Regions from separate parts of the Homo sapiens genome. Here region 2 is linked to region 1. A link means that fine-mapping ties the variant in region 1 to the expression of a gene that starts in the linked region. Tissue or cell type: whole blood. Region 1 holds a variant in brackets; the other region holds the start of a gene. All regions are shown on one strand. Distances are between the middles of the regions.

What was found. PIP is the estimated chance that this variant, and not a neighbour inherited with it, causes the effect.
Region 2: it holds the start of SIAH2, and the variant in region 1 is fine-mapped to the expression of SIAH2 in whole blood (TOPMed, PIP above 0.99).

The regions. Positions count from the first base shown.
Region 1 is chr3:150,732,376-150,743,176 of GRCh38, reverse strand. It overlaps LOC101928105 (a long non-coding RNA gene), which reads left to right and starts at 4,192. Exons shown (of 3, transcript NR_121657.1): 1 at 4,192-4,326; 2 at 6,662-6,835; 3 at 8,313-8,706. SIAH2 (siah E3 ubiquitin protein ligase 2) reads left to right here. Exons shown (of 2, transcript NM_005067.7): 2 at 479-2,052. The coding sequence ends at 1,036. RefSeq lists a silencer at 2,231-2,310 and a cis regulatory region at 9,180-9,871. The variant C/T (reference allele first, on the strand shown) is at 4,703.
Region 2 is chr3:150,756,963-150,766,681 of GRCh38, reverse strand. It overlaps SIAH2 (siah E3 ubiquitin protein ligase 2), which reads left to right and starts at 3,513. Exons shown (of 2, transcript NM_005067.7): 1 at 3,513-4,249. The coding sequence starts at 3,833. It overlaps SIAH2-AS1 (SIAH2 and CLRN1 antisense RNA 1), which reads right to left and starts at 4,745. Exons shown (of 3, transcript NR_187306.1): 1 at 4,702-4,745; 2 at 4,275-4,343. RefSeq lists enhancers at 2,518-2,577, 3,096-4,042, 5,859-5,958, 7,193-7,252 and a silencer at 3,088-3,987.

The DNA of each region.
Region 1 (10,801 bases):
GCAGTGGAGGGGGACGACAGAATTATACTGTTGTTAATATTGTCTATATGTGAAAACTAATCTTGGGATAATATAATATTCCTTGCCCAACCCCATCCCCACCACCCAAGCAATTGAATTCTTTAAAAAACAGCTTCACAGAAAATATGGGGAAGACCAGCTTTTATAGGGCTTGCTCAACAATTTTGAGATGTGCACAGTAAGAGAACTTTAGTTCTGATCCCTTTGACAGCGGAACAGGGGGCATGGAAAACAGCGTATTTCTGGTTCAGGAAATACCCTTCATTTTATGCATGACAGCATTGATGATGAATAGAGACGGAGACTTTTAGTCTTGAATATTTCACTTGCTTTGAGCAAAAGTAGTTAAGAACACAGTTTAAGCCCAGGAAAATGGAGTAGTTAAGTACTCATAGAGGGTTGAAGCAATAGAAGTTTTGAGAAGGCCCAATGGCTCAATGCATTTCTTTCTTTGCAGTATGCCACCACGGGCTGTTCCCTGACCCTGCACCATACGGAGAAACCAGAACATGAAGACATATGTGAATACCGTCCCTACTCCTGCCCATGTCCTGGTGCTTCCTGCAAGTGGCAGGGGTCCCTGGAAGCTGTGATGTCCCATCTCATGCACGCCCACAAGAGCATTACCACCCTTCAGGGAGAAGACATCGTCTTTCTAGCTACAGACATTAACTTGCCAGGGGCTGTCGACTGGGTGATGATGCAGTCATGTTTTGGCCATCACTTCATGCTGGTGCTGGAGAAACAAGAGAAGTACGAAGGCCACCAGCAGTTTTTTGCCATCGTCCTGCTCATTGGCACCCGCAAGCAAGCCGAGAACTTTGCCTACAGACTGGAGTTGAATGGGAACCGGCGGAGATTGACCTGGGAGGCCACGCCCCGTTCGATTCATGACGGTGTGGCTGCGGCCATCATGAACAGCGACTGCCTTGTTTTCGACACAGCCATAGCACATCTTTTTGCAGATAATGGGAACCTTGGAATCAATGTTACTATTTCTACATGTTGTCCATGATGTGACTTTCGTAAACCTTCAAAATTATTTGGGCATAGTGCTCTATGTTTAATAAAGGTTTTTATAGATGTTTTATTCCATATGTCTTCACAAGTCAGGACCCACAATTACCCGTGTTTTGTTTGAACAGCAGTGTCCCATCTGGCTTCGACCCAACAAAGTTCATTAACCTGGGATGAATGGGGTTGGCCTGTTGGTGATTTGGATGCTGTTCTGTGATCTAAAACAACTCTTATTGAATTGTATTTACTCCCTAAACAACACTTGACAGGCTGTTGCACAGGGCTTCTATAGATCAGTGTGTTAGGAATGGGAGGCCCCTTCCTGCCTGCCTTCCCATATTGGTCCCTTGACATTGACAAAAGCACAGTGACTGTCAGCAGATTCCTTTACTTTTGTTTGTGGGAGGTAGGAATTGTTTTAATGCATTTTAAACAGTGTTTCTGAAATTGGATGGCTGGCTAATAGACACTGAATCACCCGGAGTGCTTATCTTAAAATTGCAGATTTAGGGAGCCTGCCAATTTAACAGTCTCATCAGGTGATTCTTTTCAACAGTAATGTTTGAGAATTACTGGGTTAAATTGTGGGAAAGGGTCCAGATTTTAAAGGTGCTTTAAGGTTGCCCTCTGCCGATACTGTTTGTCTTTCTACTGTTTCATCCCCTAACTTCCCCCAACCCTCAAATTAAAACTAGAACTATAGATCCACATGAACGCACGCCTGAGATTTGGCCACTCACCTATGTTTTGGGTGGATTGCCTAGGAAAGCAAGTCATATGGCCATTGATAGTTCTCATGTAATTAGTTTTGCTCACCACTAGTACAGATGACCCGTTTACACGTGGCTTCCCTCGGAAGCCCTCCTCAACAGTAGCTGGTGTGAAAGACTAAATCAGTAGAGTTGGAAAAGCTTTATAACCGGTGTGTCATATGCTTGCTATTTAAAGCTGTGTGTTGGTTTTGTTTTTCTGCCACATTCACTAGTTTTTTAATAAATATTTTCCAAAAATGGATATTGTGCTTCATTTCCCTAATTGAGTAATGGGTATTTATTGAGCATCTACTGTGTGCAAGTGCAATGAACCTTCGTCACTACATCTGGGGTTGGAACTTTCACTGTTTGTTTCCACTGTGGAAACAGTCATTGGGCCAAGGTCATGGCACGGGTCCATGACAGCACTGGGGTCCGGGCTCATGTGTCTGAACCACTGACTGTCAGTGCTGCAGGTCTCCTCCCAGGGCTGTCGTTTCTATCTGACAGTGCCAGTACCTGTGCAATAAGAGGATTGCTCCAGCTTTACAGAGTCAGAAGGAAGACGCTTGGCCACTGCTGACATCCAGAGTGCTGGCGTTGATCCAAGCTGACCCACTCCCTCAGTCCCAACCCTAAACTCTCAAAAGAATTTAGAGGATTAGGGCCAAATGCTCAGCAAGGATTGAAGGCTGCTTACCTCAGTGTCCCAATTTCTTTCTTTTTTTTTTTTTTTTTTTTTGAGACAGAGGCTGGAGTGCAATGGCACTCACTGCAATCTCTGCCTCTAGGTTCAAACAATTCTCCTGCCTCAGCCTCCCAAGTAAGTGGGACTAGAGGCCTATGCCACCACACCCAGCTAATCTTTGTATTTTTAGTAGAGATGAGGCCAGACTGGTCTCGAACTCCTGACCTCAAGTGATCCACTTGCCTCGGCCTCCCAAAGTGCTGGGATTAAGGCATGAGCCACCACACCCAGCCCTCAGTGTCCCAATTTCATTAGCATACTACCAAATGGAGGTGATGGCTTTGGAGTTGATTTTGTTTTTTAAGTGAGATACAGCGTTGAGTTTTTAGCCAGCACAGGGCTCTGACATTTAAAGAATTGCTAAAGTAACCTCTTCTGTAAAAGTGAAAAACGGTGCCCTACACAAAAGTAGGGGTTTACAACATCTGTGGTGAATGAATAAAAACCACAACTCTTATCACTAAGAAAGTCACATTTCAAGTCCATATACAGAGGAACCTATGAAGGTGAAACTAGGATCCAGGAGCAGATGAACTCTGACCCTCAGGACCAGAGCCAGTCCAGATATGGCCTCCAGGGCCCTCACGGCACCCATGCAAGGTGCAGTGTGCATACACTAGCCAAGCTTGGCAGCATCACTTCATGTCCACGGCTTACCCTCTTACTACGTGTGGTAGAGGAATCAGGACTGATTGGTTAACAGTGCATAAAACGCAAACCTATAAACAAAAGACATAAAGAAGGAGAAAGTGGACACAAGTTATTCCAAAAGCACAAAAAGAGTTTTAGCCCAAAAAGGTAAAGTGATGGGCCAGCAGCCACACAGTGCATTACTGGCAGCACTGGTTCTATAATTCAGGCTTCTTGATTCCCCATTCAAACTTGCTCCTAGAACTTAACAAATGAAAAAGTTGTAAGCAACGCAACTCTGAACTTTTATTTTCCAGAGTTACGTAGTTCCCTTTCATCTCTGTCACTGGAAATCTGTAAACTTAACCTTTACTCTTGACTTTCTTGAAACTGTGCATTTTCTACCAGAAAATAAAAATCCCCAGGTTATTCCGTTTTAACAGGAAGTGAAAACAGCAGAAAAAGATTATGTAAATTAAAATGCCTTTTTATGCAGTTCCAATTGCAAATGCAATTTAAAACATGATGAGTATATTCCTTGACTTGTTGCTTTTAAAAAAAGTGAGAAAAAAAAAGAAAAGTAATGATAGGCATTTGTCAAAACTCATCACGTGGTCCACTTAAGTACCATATTTTAAAAAATAAAATAAGAATATTTTATCTTTCCTGTCCTAGTTCAATATTCTAATTTGGTAATCTGGCGATTAAACGATGGTAGATTAAGCCTGTGTCTTATGACGCATGAGTCATTCTAAAGAAAAAAGGGTTCTCAAAATACCTTGGGAGAAAATGTTAACAGTCATTAATTCTGGGTGCCTAGAACCTGGGTATATGGTATATTATTAATTGCATTGTTCTACGTTTTTAATTTTTTTCAAAAAACCAACCAACCTTGAGATTAGGGGTTCCCAGCGTTCTTGTAAGGAGGAACTGGTCTTGGTTTCCCTGAATCCAGAAGACTTAAAGGATTGAGACAGTGGAGTTCTTAGAGGGAACTGTCCAGGGGATTATGGGAAATACTTCGGAGAAGAGGCACCGAAGCATCAACTATCTTGGAACTCTGCCAACTAGAACCTCGGCCTCAACTGACACATCCAAACTAATGGCTGAGTGTCTTTTTTAGCAGCATCAAGCAACTCCTTTACAATACCACCCAAAGTAATTTTCCTGAAGAAATTCTCCTTGTATCTAACTTCATTCAGGTTCTTGGGGCTTGCCAAATAGCCAGCAATGTGACCTTAACTTGGTCAGTTGACATCTCTGGTCTTAAGTTTCCTAATCTGCAACATTTGAAGGTTTATTTTCTAAACGTTTTTACTTTAGTACTAATTTCTGTGAGACAATCAAGCTATTCAATGTTAGGTTGAGGTATGTAAATCATTCCTGCCAGCCTTTGTACGAGGTGGTTCTGGTATCACTGTGGCCCAGCATGTGTCTGTCTATCAGTGTTGGCAGGTGAGTCATGCTCCAGCTACCTCTCAGATTCCCATGGTTTAGAGCTAGGGGTGGTGCCTGGGTAGAGAGACCAGTTTTG[C/T]TTTGTGGCTCTGGCTTGAGAGGCCTGTGGCCTTGAACCTTCCTGATTCATGCAGGCTGTGCTTGAAAGTATGATTATAATTTCACTGACCTGTGAAAGGGAGGCAAGAGTGCTTAAAGGGAGAAATCTAATTCCCCATATTGTTAAACCTTCTTCTAATTTGAAGCTTAAAATCTCTTATTTGTGAATACCGTTAATGTGTCTTGGAGTCTTCAAATGACAAGCAGAAAGAACCTTGATCCCATTGACACCAACACCCACCACCACTACCATTTTACAGAATAAACAAGTAAGACCTACAGAGGGAAACACACTGGCCCCAAACCACACTGCTGATTAGAATTTTCTGTGATGATGACATGGTGTCTTCTGTATTGAGTAAAAGGGAAAAAATTACAAAACAGCTTAAAGTACAAGCCAACATTTTACCATGACTAAGGGAAGTGGCTCCCAGTCTTGATTCCCCATTTCCATTGCCACCATCTGGGCCAGGACCACTGTTGGGGCTCCTAACTGTTTGTCCTCCTTCTTCCTGCCTGCTCCAATGTATTCTACACATAGGCAGAGGCTCTTTTGACATGAAAATCATTGGCATCACAGCTCTTCAATATTCTCTTGCGGTGCACCCTATTTCTTTTCCTTCATGGCACCACAATTGTGATTACATATTTTTTTTTATTGTTCAGCGCCTGCCTCCCCTTGACAACCTGCAGGGTAATAGAGACAATGAAGTCCCTGGCACCTAGGCACCCAATTAATATCTGAATGAATAAATAACTACTAACAGGCTAGTGTGAGAGCAGCATTGAAGTCAACACTTTAAGAGTTAAGGTTTTCTGGTTTTGTACCAAAAGTCCCTGGGGAAATTACGCAAGTAGGCAGGGAACAGAGATGGGGAGATAATCTAACAATCCAGAGAAGGGAAGAAACAAAGGGTTTCTCTGCCCCTGTCATCCTCCAGGCAAGGTCACTAAGGCTGGTTTGAAGTTTCTGTGCCTTGAAATTTCTTATGTCATGGAGTCACCTGACATTCAGATCAAAGGCCGACTCCGCTCTATGTTTGATGATCCTTGCAGCAAGCACAGATCAAGGTTCCTGTGACCTGCAGCAATTGGATTACAAGATTAGATCAATTTGCAAAGTACACCAAGATCACAGCAGTTGCCATCCATTAGGTACCTATCGTGTGCAAAGTGCTTTGTCTGTATTAACCCATTTAATCCTCTCAATAAAATAAGCAGTGTTTATTATCCCCATTTTGGAGTCGAGGAAATGAAGGCTCAGAGAGATTAAGTAATTTGCCTACACTCACACAGCTGGTAAGAAACAGAATTGGAATATGAACCCATCGTGGAGTCCATGCCCCTTCACCATATCACGTGATCCATCATTATTCTTATTTGGCTTTCACATATTTTGACCATCAGCAGAAATATTGCTTACTTGTAACAGATAAAGATGAACAAGATGGAGGGGTGCAGGATGCTTGGTGAATACAGAACATACCACCTGTGCTTTGGAACTGCCTTCCCCACTGTCATGGCATGCTAGAAGGGGATGGAGACCTAGAAATCGTTCAGACCCTCACTAGTTAAAGTGTGGTCCGTGCACCAGCGGCATCAGCATCACCTGGGAACTTGTCAGAAATGCAGCATCTCAGCCTCCACCCCAGACCTCCTGACCAGAATCCGCATTTTAACACAGTATGCAGGTGATGTGGATGCATGTTCAAGTTTGGGAAGCACTGGTTGGATCAAAGGTTATCACCCCACACGTCCTTTGGAATCATGTGGGGAACTTTAAAGAATGCCAGGACCTAAGTTAGAATTCTTGGCAGTAAGGCTGAGCTTCTGTGTGCTTTTTAAAGCTTCCCAGAAGGGACCAGCACACAGTCAGGGTTGAGAACCTCTGACCCAGTCCAACCTCACTGCCTCATTTTCTCTTGTATTTCTCATACAGCCGCTGAGACAAGTGATGTCACCTGCCAATACTGTAGATTGAATAACCAGGGAAGGCTGAGGAATGCAAGTGAATGTAAAAACCACCTGGAGGGAAGCATTGCAGCAAGAAAGGAACAGCAAGTGCAGAGGCCTGAGGCAGAACCAGCAGGGAAAATGCTTTGAGGTGAGGCAGGTAAGGAGCTAGAGCCTTGCCCTGTGAGGCCAGCTAGGGGTCTGGCTTTCTTTCCAGGTACAATGGGAGGCCACTGGAAAGTTTCAAGGAGCATGGATGATGGGATTCGGGTTTTTAAAAAGAGCTGTAGCTGTTCAATTAAAACAAAACAAAACAACAAAAACAATGATTATAAAGGGCAGGAATGGAAGCATTTTGGAAGCTATTGCATTTCACCCAGTGAAAGATAATTATGGCTTGGACAGAGTGAGCAAAGGTAGAGATTAACAGAAATGGGCATATTTGGGCTATGTTTTCAAGGTAGAGTTAACAGGAGTTGCTAAAAAGTTGGATGGGTGGGAGAGGGGTGATGATTATAGGAATAAGGAAAAGAGAGAATCAAGGATGATCACTCCTAGGCTCTCATCCTGAGTAAATGGGTAAGAAGTTCCATGTATTGGGGCAGAGACTAGTGAAGGAGCCAGCATAGGGCAGAAATCTAGAGAGACACATGGCTGAAGACATCAACCAGACAGTTGTTTGTATGAGCTTGGAGCTCTGAGGAAAGGCCAGGATGGAAATACCAAAATGTGTGCACCATCACTATATGTATGGTGTTTAAGCTGTGGGGTGGAAGTGAGAAGACCCCGGGGTTTGGGCAATGGAGGGAGGTGCATACAGGCAGAAAAGAGGGTGGGACTCAGGCCTATCTCCTGGGACTGCCAACCTTTTAGAGGTCACATGAGGAGCCAGAGCCTGGAAATGAGGGTGGATAGAAGAAGTGGCCATCAAGATGAGGGGAACTCCTAGACAGTACGGCATCACAGAACCCCAGGAAAAAAATCTGGCTCAAGTAGAACAGAGGAGTTAGCCACTGAGAAGACAATCGAGGTCATGGCAAGATGTCAAGAGCAGTCTCATGGAGTGGAGAAGACAGAAGCCCAGAGGAGAGCAGGTGAGGGAGAGAACAGGGCATGGGTGAGGAGAGGAGGCAGGAGCTATAGCTATAGAGCTATAGACAAGTTGCTATAGACAAGGCTTTTAAGAAGTTCCGCAGAGAAGACGTAGAGAAATGAAGCAGTTGCTGCAGGAGAATAGTGGGATCAATGAAAGATTTTTTTGTGTTTTAAAAATTGGAGCCACTAGAGCATGGCACTGTGCCAATGGGAAGGATCCAAAAGAGAGAGCGAAATGGATGATGTGGAGAAGGAGGCAATCACAGCGGGGGCAAAGTAATCAGAAAGACAAGTTTCCAGGGCAGATTACTTACTTATGCAGTAGAGATGGTCAGGAAGCAGCCATTATTGAAATAGAGAGAGGTGGGAAAAAAATTGTGCCAACAAGCAAGGGTTGAAGCAAATTATGTTTAGAAGGCCCTGGTGAGGGCGTCTGTGCATATCCAGCCCTGAACAGGAGAAAGGCACTGGCTGCAGCTCAGTCTAGAACATCCCAGGCATCTGAGAGGTTTACACCTTAGCAAGCTGTGGTGTTTTTCTAGGTTCCATGAAAACCTGGAAGAAATATTCCTGAGGACCATCCAACACCATTTCCCTGAGAGACAAGCTGTAAGTGCTGTTCTAGTTACAGATCCGAGTCCCTGGTACATTGATATCAAGTAAGGGTGCATGCAGCTCAGAAGGCAGTTTCCATTACACTGGACAAGAGTGTGGCTGCCTGAGTCCTAGAACTGCAGTGGCTTCTGCTGACAATGTGAGGAGTAGCTGCCCTGTCCAGAGTGTGGCCCCGCACGCTGCCCCCTCCCCTGGAGGGACTGAAGAGAACAGCTTGGAGCATGCCCTTCCCTTTCCCTTATCTCGCCCACTATGCTAATGCTGCTCATCCCTCAAGATCCGAGTTATTCCTCCTCAATTCAATACACACCAATCAACTGCCCTGTGCTTGGTCCTGTACTTTATATCCTTGATATGGTTTAATTTTCAAAACAAAACACCTTGAGGTGGGTATTATCACTCCCATTAACAAACAAGAAGGTGGGGGCTCAGAGAGGCTAAGTAACTTGCCCAAAGTCACACAGCTTGTAAGCAGTGAAAATGGGATTTACACTCAGGAATGTAGCCCTTCCAACAGCCCTGCTGCCTGCAAAAGTGACTCAGATATGGACTTTACAGTCTAGCAGAAGTCTGAAAGCATCAAACAAAGAGGCAACTTACAGTAGCATGAAATATGCAACCACAACTACATCAACTATGTTTGCAAAGCAAGTTAAGACAAGGACGTACAAATTGCTATGGAGTTCAAAAGAGGATTGGAAAAGGCTTCCGGGAGAAAGCAGCGCGTGCATTGGGCCTTGGGTGTTGGGTAGGTTTTTGCAAGGCTGAGGTAGTTAGGAGGATGTGCCAAGAGATCAGCCTCTCCTGGATCAAGACCAAACCACTCAATGCCTAAGTCCAGCCTTGTCCACCTCCCATCCACTTCTCAGGGCTATTCTTCTCTCACACTTCCTTTGTTCCCGCGTTCCTGACACCCACACAAGGTCAGACACGTAGAACGTGCCGAGTGAATATCAAAGTTCAGCAGTGTCTTGTCTGGTCCCTAATTCTAATCTATCCTTTAACCCATCCTCATACTAGCTAAATTTCAGGACGAACCCTGTCCACAATAAAAACTACTTCTTCTAGAGAATTTGCCCTGCCCATAGTTCCTGGAACACCCCATGCAAACCCCCCACTAATTCACACACCCACAAACTTGTAATGCAGGCCACAGCTGATAAGACCTTACCCAGGCCAGCGGTTCATTGGCTGAGCAGCCACCAGTCAGATTCTCTTGAGAGAGTCAAAGACAGTCAGTGGTGTGCACCAGAGTCACACAGCCCTGGAAAGTCAGCACACTAGCAAAGGAAAAGCCTTGATAGCAAGAGGCCCCTAGGGGTGGAGGGAGCAGCCACTGCCGCCCACCCTGCCAGGTCCTAATCCCTCCCCAGGGAGCCCAGAAACACTCCATTTCCTGCTTTGAGGCATCTTGGAGACAGCCTGCTGTGCCTTCACAATTAATTCTTCTTATCACTTTTTTTTTCAATTTTAGACCATATTTATTCACTCCCACCACCAAAATTGAAGAAAGTAACACACAAAGTTTCTCCCTCCTTCTAATTTTGCTTAATTTTATGATTATTGCTGTCAAGATGTATAACTTTTTTTTTTTTTTTGAGATGGAGTCTCTCTCTGTTGCCCAGGCTGGGGTGCAGTGGTGCCATCTTAGCTCACTGCAACCTCCGCCTCCCGGGTTCAAGCGATTCTCCTGCCTCAGCCTCCGAGTAGCTGGAATTACAGGCACCTGCCACCATGCCCGGCTAATTTTTGTATTTTTAGTAAATACAGGGTTTCACCATGTTGGCCAGGGTGATCTTGAACTCCTGACCTCAAGCAATCCACCCGCCTCAGCCTCCCAAACTGCTGAGATTACAGGCGTGAACCACTGCACCCAGCCAAGATGTATAACTTTTAAAAAAACATTTTATTAGTAAATTTTCAAAAGGAAGGAGAATAATATAACGAATTCGATGTGTTATCACCAACTTCAACCATTATCAACTCTTGGCCAGCTGTCCTGCATCTATACCCTCACCTACATCCACGTGTGGATTTCTTTGAATCAAATCCCAGGCATCATATCATTTCATCTGTATATGTTTCAGTATAGAATATCTAAAGATTAGGACTTTGAAACATACTCACAATACTGTTTTTATATCTATAAAAATTATAAATTTTAATATAATCAAATATCCAGTCAGAGGTCACATTTCTCTGGTTGATATACAGTCTGTTTGAACTGGGATACATATATAAGATCCTTACATTGCTACTGATAAAATGCTTATGTCTTTTTTAATCTACAGATTCTCCCTCCATCTCTTCTCCTTTCTTGAAGTTATTTATTGAAAAACCCAGGGTTCCTATAGCAGAGTTTCCTATAGTCTCATTGCAACCCCAGAATATCATTTTATCAGATTCAGATTTGATT
Region 2 (9,719 bases), 24 kb before region 1:
CTGATGAGGAATTTCCATGCAGCAAGCTCCAATGCATACCTGAGTCATCTCTAAAAAGCCAACCACAATTTGCTCTGCAAATGCACATTTGCCTGATGGCAGAAGTTGCCTGATTTGCAAAACCACACAATTTGTAAGTTACAGAAAAAAGGGCAAGAGCTTGTCTGCCTAGCTGGAGCATTTCTCACTGTGCTCAGCAGTTTAGTGAAATTAGGAACTCACCTGTGAGGTGTTTTTTTTAAGACTCACCCTGCTATTTTAAGGAAAGAAAAGGCTACTCAGTACACCCCTAGTCTTTCAAGCTTAGCATAGAGCAGATGGGTTAAGGAGAGGTGTCCTGCTTGACATATGCAATCTGGGACTCAGTAGGTGGGCGAATGAGACCAACCTCTCATACAGTAGATGTGGTAAATGAGTCATGAATCAGGAGATAACAAAAGGCTGGACCCTGCTCCCCCAGACCACAAAGTCACTCACTAAACAGGCCAAGAAGCAGCAGCGACACTCCAAAGGGTAAATAAACCTCCCAACAACTCAACTCAGCACACATTTTGAGTACACGCTAAATTCGACCTCTGAGCGGACTGCCCGCTGGAAGAGGAGGCTCTAGCTCATAGTGCCCGGTATGCAAAGGTCACCTTTCTTTGTTTCAAAAGTCACCAAGGAAGGAGGAAGAAGAAAGGCGACTGGGAAGACCAGCCTGGTCATTGATGTGGCTCACATAGCAGACCTATCCACTCTCCCCCTGCCTACCTTCAGCAACTGCCCAGAGTTTTTTTGTTTTGCTTTTGTATTTTAATTACCCTGGTTGACTTAATCAGGTGTGCAATGATGTGAAGGAGGAAGAAAGAAGAAATTTCTCTATACCAGGGGAGGCATCTGCCAGGGTAAGAGTGGATGGGTTCGCTGTATTTTTAGAAAAATAAACCAAATTCTCTCTGCAGAGAATTGCTTTTCCTGTTATTTCTTTCAACACCTCCCAAACCAAATTGTTTTCTGAATGACCAGGGCCTATCTAGCTGGAACACTTAAAGCTCGTGTCAATGGGGCAAGGGTGAGGACTCCAGTCTCCTAATGAGAGCTAGTAAGAAGCCGTGGGGATGGAGGTCATCACACAGAGAGGCTAGAAGTGGAAGGAAAGAAAATGTGTTCCATTAATAAATTCCAAATGCTTTGATTTTAAATTAAGAATGAAAAATATTACATTTCCTCCAATAACAGTAAAACAGTAGGTGATTTTTGTGTTATCACTTATATTTTGTGTCATAAAAAGGTGAAAATGAAATAAATAGAACATGATTTAATTTTTCTCTCTAGACCAGCTAAGGAAAGAGTTTATGTAAAGTTTGCCCACAAAATTTAGTGCTTTATTATAGGCTGAACAACTGTTTTCTGACTCTGTTGAGTGTGCTAATCTTAACTGTTTAACAAGACTGTAAGTAGGAATCAGGCATAATTTAGAGGCATACAGACTAGTAGTTAAGAAGGGCTCCTAGCGTGTTCCCACATTCTCAGCTGTGTGATCTTGAGCAAAGTAACCTATGTCTCGGTTTCCTCAACTGTAAAATGGAGATAACAGTAGTATTCATCACAGAGAGTTATGATAAATACTTAAAACTATCCATGCCCAACATACAGTGGGCACTCAATTAACATTAGTTATTATTTTATGCTCCCTACCTATCCAAAAACTCAGGTTCAGCCATGTTACTAAAGAGCTTCCAAAAACCTACAAAACCTAGTGTTGTTGTGTGTTCTTAAAAAAACAAACAAAACCCTACAGTGGTTTACCCCTATCATTGAGGTAAATGTCTTATTAAGCCAGTTGAGGCTCCCCTTGTGCTAACGCCACACCCCTACACTCCCGTTATATCCCCTCCAAGTCCCAATGCAATCCCAGAATACATGCTTTCACTCTGTGCTTTTTAGCTCCTGCTATAATGCCTGCCCACCCCGTGGTATCTGAAATCCTTCTTCTCCCACGAGTGCTTGGTTATTGGGCCTTGCTCTCTTACTAGAATGTAAACTGCATGAGAACCATTCTCAGAGCTCCAACAGTAGCTGACACATGATAAATGCTCAGGAAACATTTACTGAACGATTGAATACACCTATTAAGTTTTTTCAAGATTTATACCAAATTCCATCAATTCCATGCATGTATTCTTTCTACAGAAGCCCTTTGTAAGATTAAACTTTATTTCTTCTGGGCTCTTACGCCATATTTCTTGGACAAATTGTATTCATTCATTTTAAACATCCACTAATATTTTTAAAAGATAAGAGCTAATGTTTAAACAGTGCTTATGATGGGCGAGGTTGTTTTAAAAGCTTGAAATATATTAAACTCATTTACTCCTCACTGCCCCACCTATAAGATAGGTATTTTTTTTTCCACTTTTACAGTTGGAGGGAACCATTTTTCACTCAGTCCTAACAGTTGGTCCTTACCTCTGTGTCTCCTATAAATTTCCGATTTCTACCTAAGGTAACCCTTTCCCCAATTCCGGAATCGTTGGCTCAAGCAAAGTCTGCAGAAAAACAATTTTAACTCGGAGCACACAGTTACATTTGGACATGCGGTTCACCCCGGGCAACCGTGCCCTCTAGCGCTTCTGCTGGGCGCGCAGGGTGGCCCTACGCCTCGCAACAAAGACTCGGACTTCGGCCGGCTCTCTACCAAGCGGACGCAGCGCCTTACACTGGAGTTTCACCCACTGTCTTCAGAGACCTCACGACCCAACCTACGTTTCTGACATTTCTAGATGATCTCGAACTCTTAGCCAACGCTGCCCATGAGCTCCCTCCTCGGCCTGCTATACGAGCCAGGGGCGCTCAATTCAACGAAGCTTCCTCCTGGTCCGCTGGGAAAGGAATAAAGGGAGCTTACATCCTCCCCACCGCCCCCCTCTTTACTCAACCCCACCGTTAACTGTACAAAACTAGGTCCTGTGCCCGCTGCAGACCCAACTCGAGCCCCTCGCCCTGCTCCCACCCAATGCTTCTCGTCCTGACTCCGAACACAGAACGCGGGTGGCCGCTTCGCCCTCTTCTCCTGCGTGCTGGTGACTCAGCCCTGAGAAGAGAAACCTCTCGGTTTTTTCCGACTAGTGCAGGGGCGCCCGCGCCCCGCCCCTGCCCGCCCGCGTCCGGTCCCACCCACCGTCCACGCTCCCGCCCCGCCTGAAGTTGCCTTTCTCGTTTGAGCTGAGGGACGCGTCAGCCAGGCACCCCGGGGTGTGGCCAGAGGACTTCGGCGACGCTTCCCCGAGAGTAGCCCCCCTCCTCAACCCAGAAAAGACAACCCCGCGGGGCTGCAGCGAGCCAGGCATGCTCACTGGCGCAGGCCCGGCCCGCAGCCCGAGCAGGAAGCGCCGGCGCTAGGCGGCCCCCTGCGCTGCCAGCTGGAGCCGGGCGGAGCCAGCGCCCCGGCGCAGGGTGGCTCTGCCAGTCCCCGCGCGCCTGGGCGGCCGCACACGTGTCCAGGCGTCACGTCCGCGCGCGCCCCCGGGGCTTGCGTCAGCGGCTGTTCCAGAAGCGGGTGGGCCAGGGCTCTGCGCACCGCTGGGGTTCGGGGCCCGGGACGCCGCCGGGAGGAGGGCACCGCGCGGGGTCCGACGCGGAGGCGTGCTCGGAACGCCGGGGGCTGCGGAGTGCATCAGCGCGGTCCAGCCCTCCGCCTGCCGGGCGCCGAGCGTCTCCGCCGCCCGGACCTGGGCTGGGCGCCGTGGCGTTGCCTCGGAGCTCGCTGCCCGCGGGGCGCGCACCGCCTTGACCCGGGCGGCCCCGCGGCAGGCAGGCGCCCGCAGTTCCATGGTTGGTTCGGAGCGCGATGAGCCGCCCGTCCTCCACCGGCCCCAGCGCTAATAAACCCTGCAGCAAGCAGCCGCCGCCGCAGCCCCAGCACACTCCGTCCCCGGCTGCGCCCCCGGCCGCCGCCACCATCTCGGCTGCGGGCCCCGGCTCGTCCGCGGTGCCCGCCGCGGCGGCGGTGATCTCGGGCCCCGGCGGCGGCGGCGGGGCCGGCCCGGTGTCCCCGCAGCACCACGAGCTGACCTCGCTCTTCGAGTGTCCGGTCTGCTTTGACTATGTCCTGCCTCCTATTCTGCAGTGCCAGGCCGGGCACCTGGTGTGTAACCAATGCCGCCAGAAGTTGAGCTGCTGCCCGACGTGCAGGGGCGCCCTGACGCCCAGCATCAGGAACCTGGCTATGGAGAAGGTGGCCTCGGCAGTCCTGTTTCCCTGTAAGGTAAGCCCAGGGACAGCCCACGTACCTCCGCCGGTGACCTCAGGGACTCCGGTATCCGCCAGCCCACTCGCAGGCCCGGAGAGGCGGGCGGCATCTCTCATTTAAAAAAAAAAAAGAAAAAATGTTTACACTTCGTCCACCCTCCCTCAAGCCCACTTTGGGTGTAGGTCTGGGTTGACATTTACCGAGTAATAATTGTTAATAGACAATTAACAGATTAATTGGCATTTGCTGATCGTTAGAACATCGTAGCTCACCCGGCCCAATGCCCGCGTCCTCTGCAGACGTGTATTCGGGTACTCTCGGTAGGGCTGGGCCGCACCAGTAAAACTTGGACCGAGAAACTGACTGTGTGGGGATTGAGGAGGGAGGAAACGGGCGAGCTAAACGCCCCCTTTACCAGCGCTGGGCTCGGCTGAATTGATAATTGGAGTCCTGCACCCCGCGCCTACCGTCTGCGCACCCCTGACACGTGGGAGCTCTCGGGATTGTAGCTAAAAAAAGGGCGCCTACAGCCTGTTTTCCTCTAGCTAGAAGAAAACCCTGCAAGCCACGCCTTTTTCTCTCCTAGCCTTCCAAAGACTGGGAAGGACTGAGGAGTTGTGGCTGCGTTGTTGTACTAAGTGGGGTGAAAACAGTCAATCAAGAAATTAACAAGGGCACTCAAGAGCTGTTGTTACAGTTGTTTAAAGCTCATCACTTCATTTTTTATTTAATGTAAAAAGTTTTCAATGCCCTTGCGAAAAATGCAAGCCACCAAGACAAGAAGTAAAATGAAAGACCAAGATCTCTCCCCTCCTTTCCCACCATTGTTAGGTTTAGTGTGTATCTTTTTAAACTATATATACATACACCCTCGCAGCTAAATATAGAATCATAGATGTCAGTGTATGTCAGGGAGGTTTTTTAATACCCACACATAGATGTAAGTTTTTCTCCAAAAATGGCATCTGCAACTTGCTGTTCTTAAATTCATATTATCACACATATTTCTCTATGCCTGAAACCTAGTCGACTTCATTGTATTTTAAATGGCTGCATAGTATTGCATTGTGTGGTCATATTATAACATTTGTTTACCTGCAGCTATTACGTGGAAACCTTCAGGAGCAGTTTCACAGACATACTTGTCTACGTTATAACCTAGAAGTATACTGTAAAGTCATTTTCTGAAATTAGAAGTGGAGATAATGTCACTAATACTTTCCAGTTTTTTTGTAAAAGTAACTTGCGCTGCCTCTTGGGCCATTTAAGCTGTCTTGCATTTCTCCTTGGTGCTGCTTATTTTATAGGACAAGAGCTCATTTTTAAATTAAAAATAATCCACCAGAGAATTCAGGCTTGGGACTCAGGTCAGTAAAATGAGTGCTTTAATTTGGTCTGCTGCCCTGCTGCAAATCAGGTTTAAAATAGCATATTTAAATAAGAGTTTGAATCGGTGTTTGGACTAGGGTGTTTCAGGCAACCTTAATAAATTGCTGTTAACCCCTCCTCATATAGTGCTTACTAATTCACTCAGCCCAGTTTCTCAAAATTTAGATAAAGTATTTGCATAGTTGTCTTAGGGTTGTGAAAAAGGTGACAACCTAGTGGTTGGAAAAGGTTTGGTGGTAGTTAACATAGAGTGGCTATTTGATGCTTGAGATATATTGCAGGGGTGGGGGATGCCCCATAGGATTTCTGGGGAGCCATTTTCTCACCCCTTTACTTTCCCTTAAACGCGCAGCGGCTAACAAAAGAAATGGCTTTTAGGTGAGTTTTAGTTCACAAATGAGCATTTGATATTAGTCAGTAATCCATAATTTGTTTTTAAAATGTAACCATAATAGAATTGTGTTGTTCCCAAGAGAAAGGGAAGGAAACAGTTATGCTATATGGAGCATGAAGTTTCACTTTCAGGATCTAGAACTCTGGTTCCTATGAAAGCATACGTTCTTTCCTAACGTGAAACAGGCTACTGAAATCAACCTTGAAGAGTAGTTCTGGGAATCAGGGGTTCTCAGCCTTTCTGTACATGTCAGTGGTTTTCTGAGTCTCTATTCTATAAGAATGCAGTGGGGTAAAGCTATTACTTTGCAAGCTGAAATTTAAAAGGGCCAATTATTCCCCTGCAGACCAAGAACCAAGCTTAGGATGTGATCTTGGGGATGCTTTTGTGTGTGCATGTGTGTGAGTTGTATAAAGCTGGGGTGTGTGTCCCTCACCTTTGGTTGATCAATAATCCAAACTATTGGCAGGGCAGCTCAGCCAGTTAGTCTGGATAAACCAAACTTGAATGTATACATAGGCCCAGCGACCAACCAAGATGTGTTAGTTGTAGAGGATGAGAAACAACAGAGAGCCGTAAGGCCTGTATCAAACTTAAAACAAGGCAGATCTGTTTACCTAGCCCTTTGGCCTACAGTTTGAGGCTCCTAGAAATTATGGGACTGCCTTTTTACTGTCCCCACCTGCTCTCAGAATCTCTCATGGGCTGGCTCATGTGAAAAAAACCAACGTTGAATAAAGTACCAGAGCCCACATCTCAAGAGCTGCCACTGTTTGCCTGAAAGACCACCTCCCAGGGCCTTGATTTCCTCATCTATACAAATGAGAGATGAATCTGCTTGACTTCTAAGGACCTGTAGCTTCTAGCATTCTATGAAAAGAAGGGAGGCTATCTGGAATGTTATTGGATGCCCTCTATCTGCCAGTTACTTTGCAGGGGTCAGCTTTTACTAGTTTGCCTTTTTTTTTTTTCAGATGAGGAAACTCATGCCTACAGAGTGGTTAAATGTGAAGTGACTTGTCAAATCACACAGCTAGTAAGAGGACCAGTCCAAGCACCTGCATCTCAAAGGCACAGATGTTTTGTCCTACACCTTACTACGTAGGGATTTCGAATCTGAGTGTATACTCAAGATTCTGAATCATAACTCAAGGTTGACACCAGTAACAAAACCGTCTGGTTGGATGAGTTCACCAGATGGGCCTCTTATGGGACCATCCCAAAATGACAACATACATACTCACTATGAAATTCATTGGCAGGAATTTTGTAGGGCATGTAGGGTAGGAAGATGGGAGGGTGGGGGAAACCTACAAACCTAGTATTTTGTGGGGTATCATCACAGCTCTGGACTGCTTCAGTTGGCAAAAAAATGGATGTATTGCCAAATAACTATCCCACTTAGGTTTAGGGTAATTAATTAAAGGCTAGAGTGTTGCCAGCACCTTTGATATGGGGAACCGGATGCATTATTAGCTCAGATCTTTGGGTGTGGTGACTCATGCCTGTAATCCCAGCACTTTGGGAGGCAGAGGTGAGCAGATCACCTGAGGTCAGGAGTTCGAGACCAGCCTGGACAACATAGTGAAACCCTGTCTCTACTAAAAATACAAAAATTAGGGCCAGGCGCAGTGGCTCACGTCTGTAATCCCAGCACTTTGGGAGGCTGAGGTGGGTGGATCACCTGAGGTCAGGAGTTTGAGACCAGCCTGACCAACATGGAGAAACCCCGTTTCTACTAAAAATACAAAAAAGTTAGCTGGGCATGGTGGCACATGCCTGTAATATCAGCTACTCAGGAGACTGAGGCAGGAGAATTGCTTGAACCCGGGAGGCAGAGGTTGCAGTGAGCCAAGATCACGTCATTGCATTCCAGCCTGGGCAACAAGAGTGAAACTCAGTCTCATTAAAAAAAAAAAAAAAAAAAATAGCCAGGTGTGGTGGCAGGCACCTGTAATCCCAGCTACTCAGGAGGCTGCGGCAGGAGAATCGCTTGAACCCAGGAGGTGGAGGTTGCAGTGAGCTGAGATTGTGCCACTGCACTCCAGCCTGGGTGACAGAGCAAGACTCTGTGTCAAAAAAAAAAAAAAAAAAATGGAATGTCTAATAGTGTATGGCTTTCTTCCGCTTGGGGTATTTTTTAATCCATTCTGTGGCTTGTTCCATGCCTGAGAACTTTTGACATCCTGTGCCCAGACTTAAACTCACCCCTTCAGTGTGTGGGTTTAGGGGGAGAAGTGAAGGTTGACACATTCATATCAACAACATAGTCTACTTTACCATCCAACGATGTATTTTGATATCAGCCAAGTATTTCTCTCTACAACTGTGAGCAATGCTAATCCACTCCAGCCTTCTTACACTGTAATGATACCTTTTCTTTGTCCTCTCTGAAAGTTTCTAGTAGCATATCTCCAAATAATTATTGAATTTGAAAGCCTCAGCTGGACAAGTCTTCTCTGTGGTTGAATTGTGACAATGTCTGTGTTCCTTAAAAAAATAAAAAATAACATAAAACCAAGTAAGGTTAGACAAAACAGTTGAAAGTTTAAAATCCCTTGGCCTCATCTAGTTCAGTGGAGACAAACTTTCTAAATGGGAGGAGGGCCATGTAATGAGAGGAGAGGAGAGGAGAGAAGTATTTGATGCACTCATGGCCTCAGGGTCAGGGAGACCTGGAGGAGCAGTGGAGATGGTGGAGAGCCAGAGAACAGGTGCCACCTCCCAAGAGGCAGCCTTTACTCACCTCTGGCTGATTGGTGGGGTTGGGGATGTGGGTACAGGCATATCAGACCTTTAGATTTTTTTCAAGAAAAGCCAGAAATCTGGATCTTTTTTTTTTCCTTTAAGAGATGTCATCTCACTATGTTGCCCAGGCTGGTCTTGATACTCCTGAGCTCAAGCAATCCTCCTATCTCGGCCCCCCAAAGTGCTGGGATTACAAGTGTGAGCCACCGTGCCCAGCCTGGATTTTTTTTTTATGTTAAATATCTCGATTTTTTTTCTAGCATTGGCTGACTTCACATGTATAACCACCACTTGCAGACAAAGCGAACCACCACGTCTCCAGGCCAAATTCCAGCTGCCAGCATGCAGCCTCTGATCTGATTCTCTTGTAGAAGCATTCCTTGAGCCTGGAAGTTCTCATTTAACTCTTGCCATACATGAACTTTGGAACTCTGTTAGGCCCTAACTGTTGGTGATTTTGTAGCTTGTTTTCTTTTCATCTTCATTTTGCCAAGAGAATATTATTTTCTGGCCATCAGGAACCCTCAGATGATGGCCTTGTGACTAGATGTTTGACTCTATACAGGTCAGTTTCTTTTTTGCACCTGAGGGTCTTTAAGAGAAGGGATTGGACTAAATGATTATCCCAAGGTTCTTTCTTACCCTAAAATTTTAAAATATAGTAAGCGGTCCCAGTGAAAAGAACGTGAGCCAGGAAACAGAAGACCTGGGTTCTCGTCCTGGCTTTGTGTGACTTTGGTCCAGTCACATACTTCCCTGACCCTGTTTGTTCATCCATTAGAAAGAACGGAGATGACGCCTAGTTAGTGGGTGCTTGGAAATCAGATTAGAAGTGCTGTTGAGGGCTTTTGCTTCACCATATGGAATGGAATATGGGGGGTATTGGGGTGGTTGGAAGGTTGCAATGGGGGATCACCTGGAAGCAGGAAGCACAAGCCGATTAGCCAAAAATAC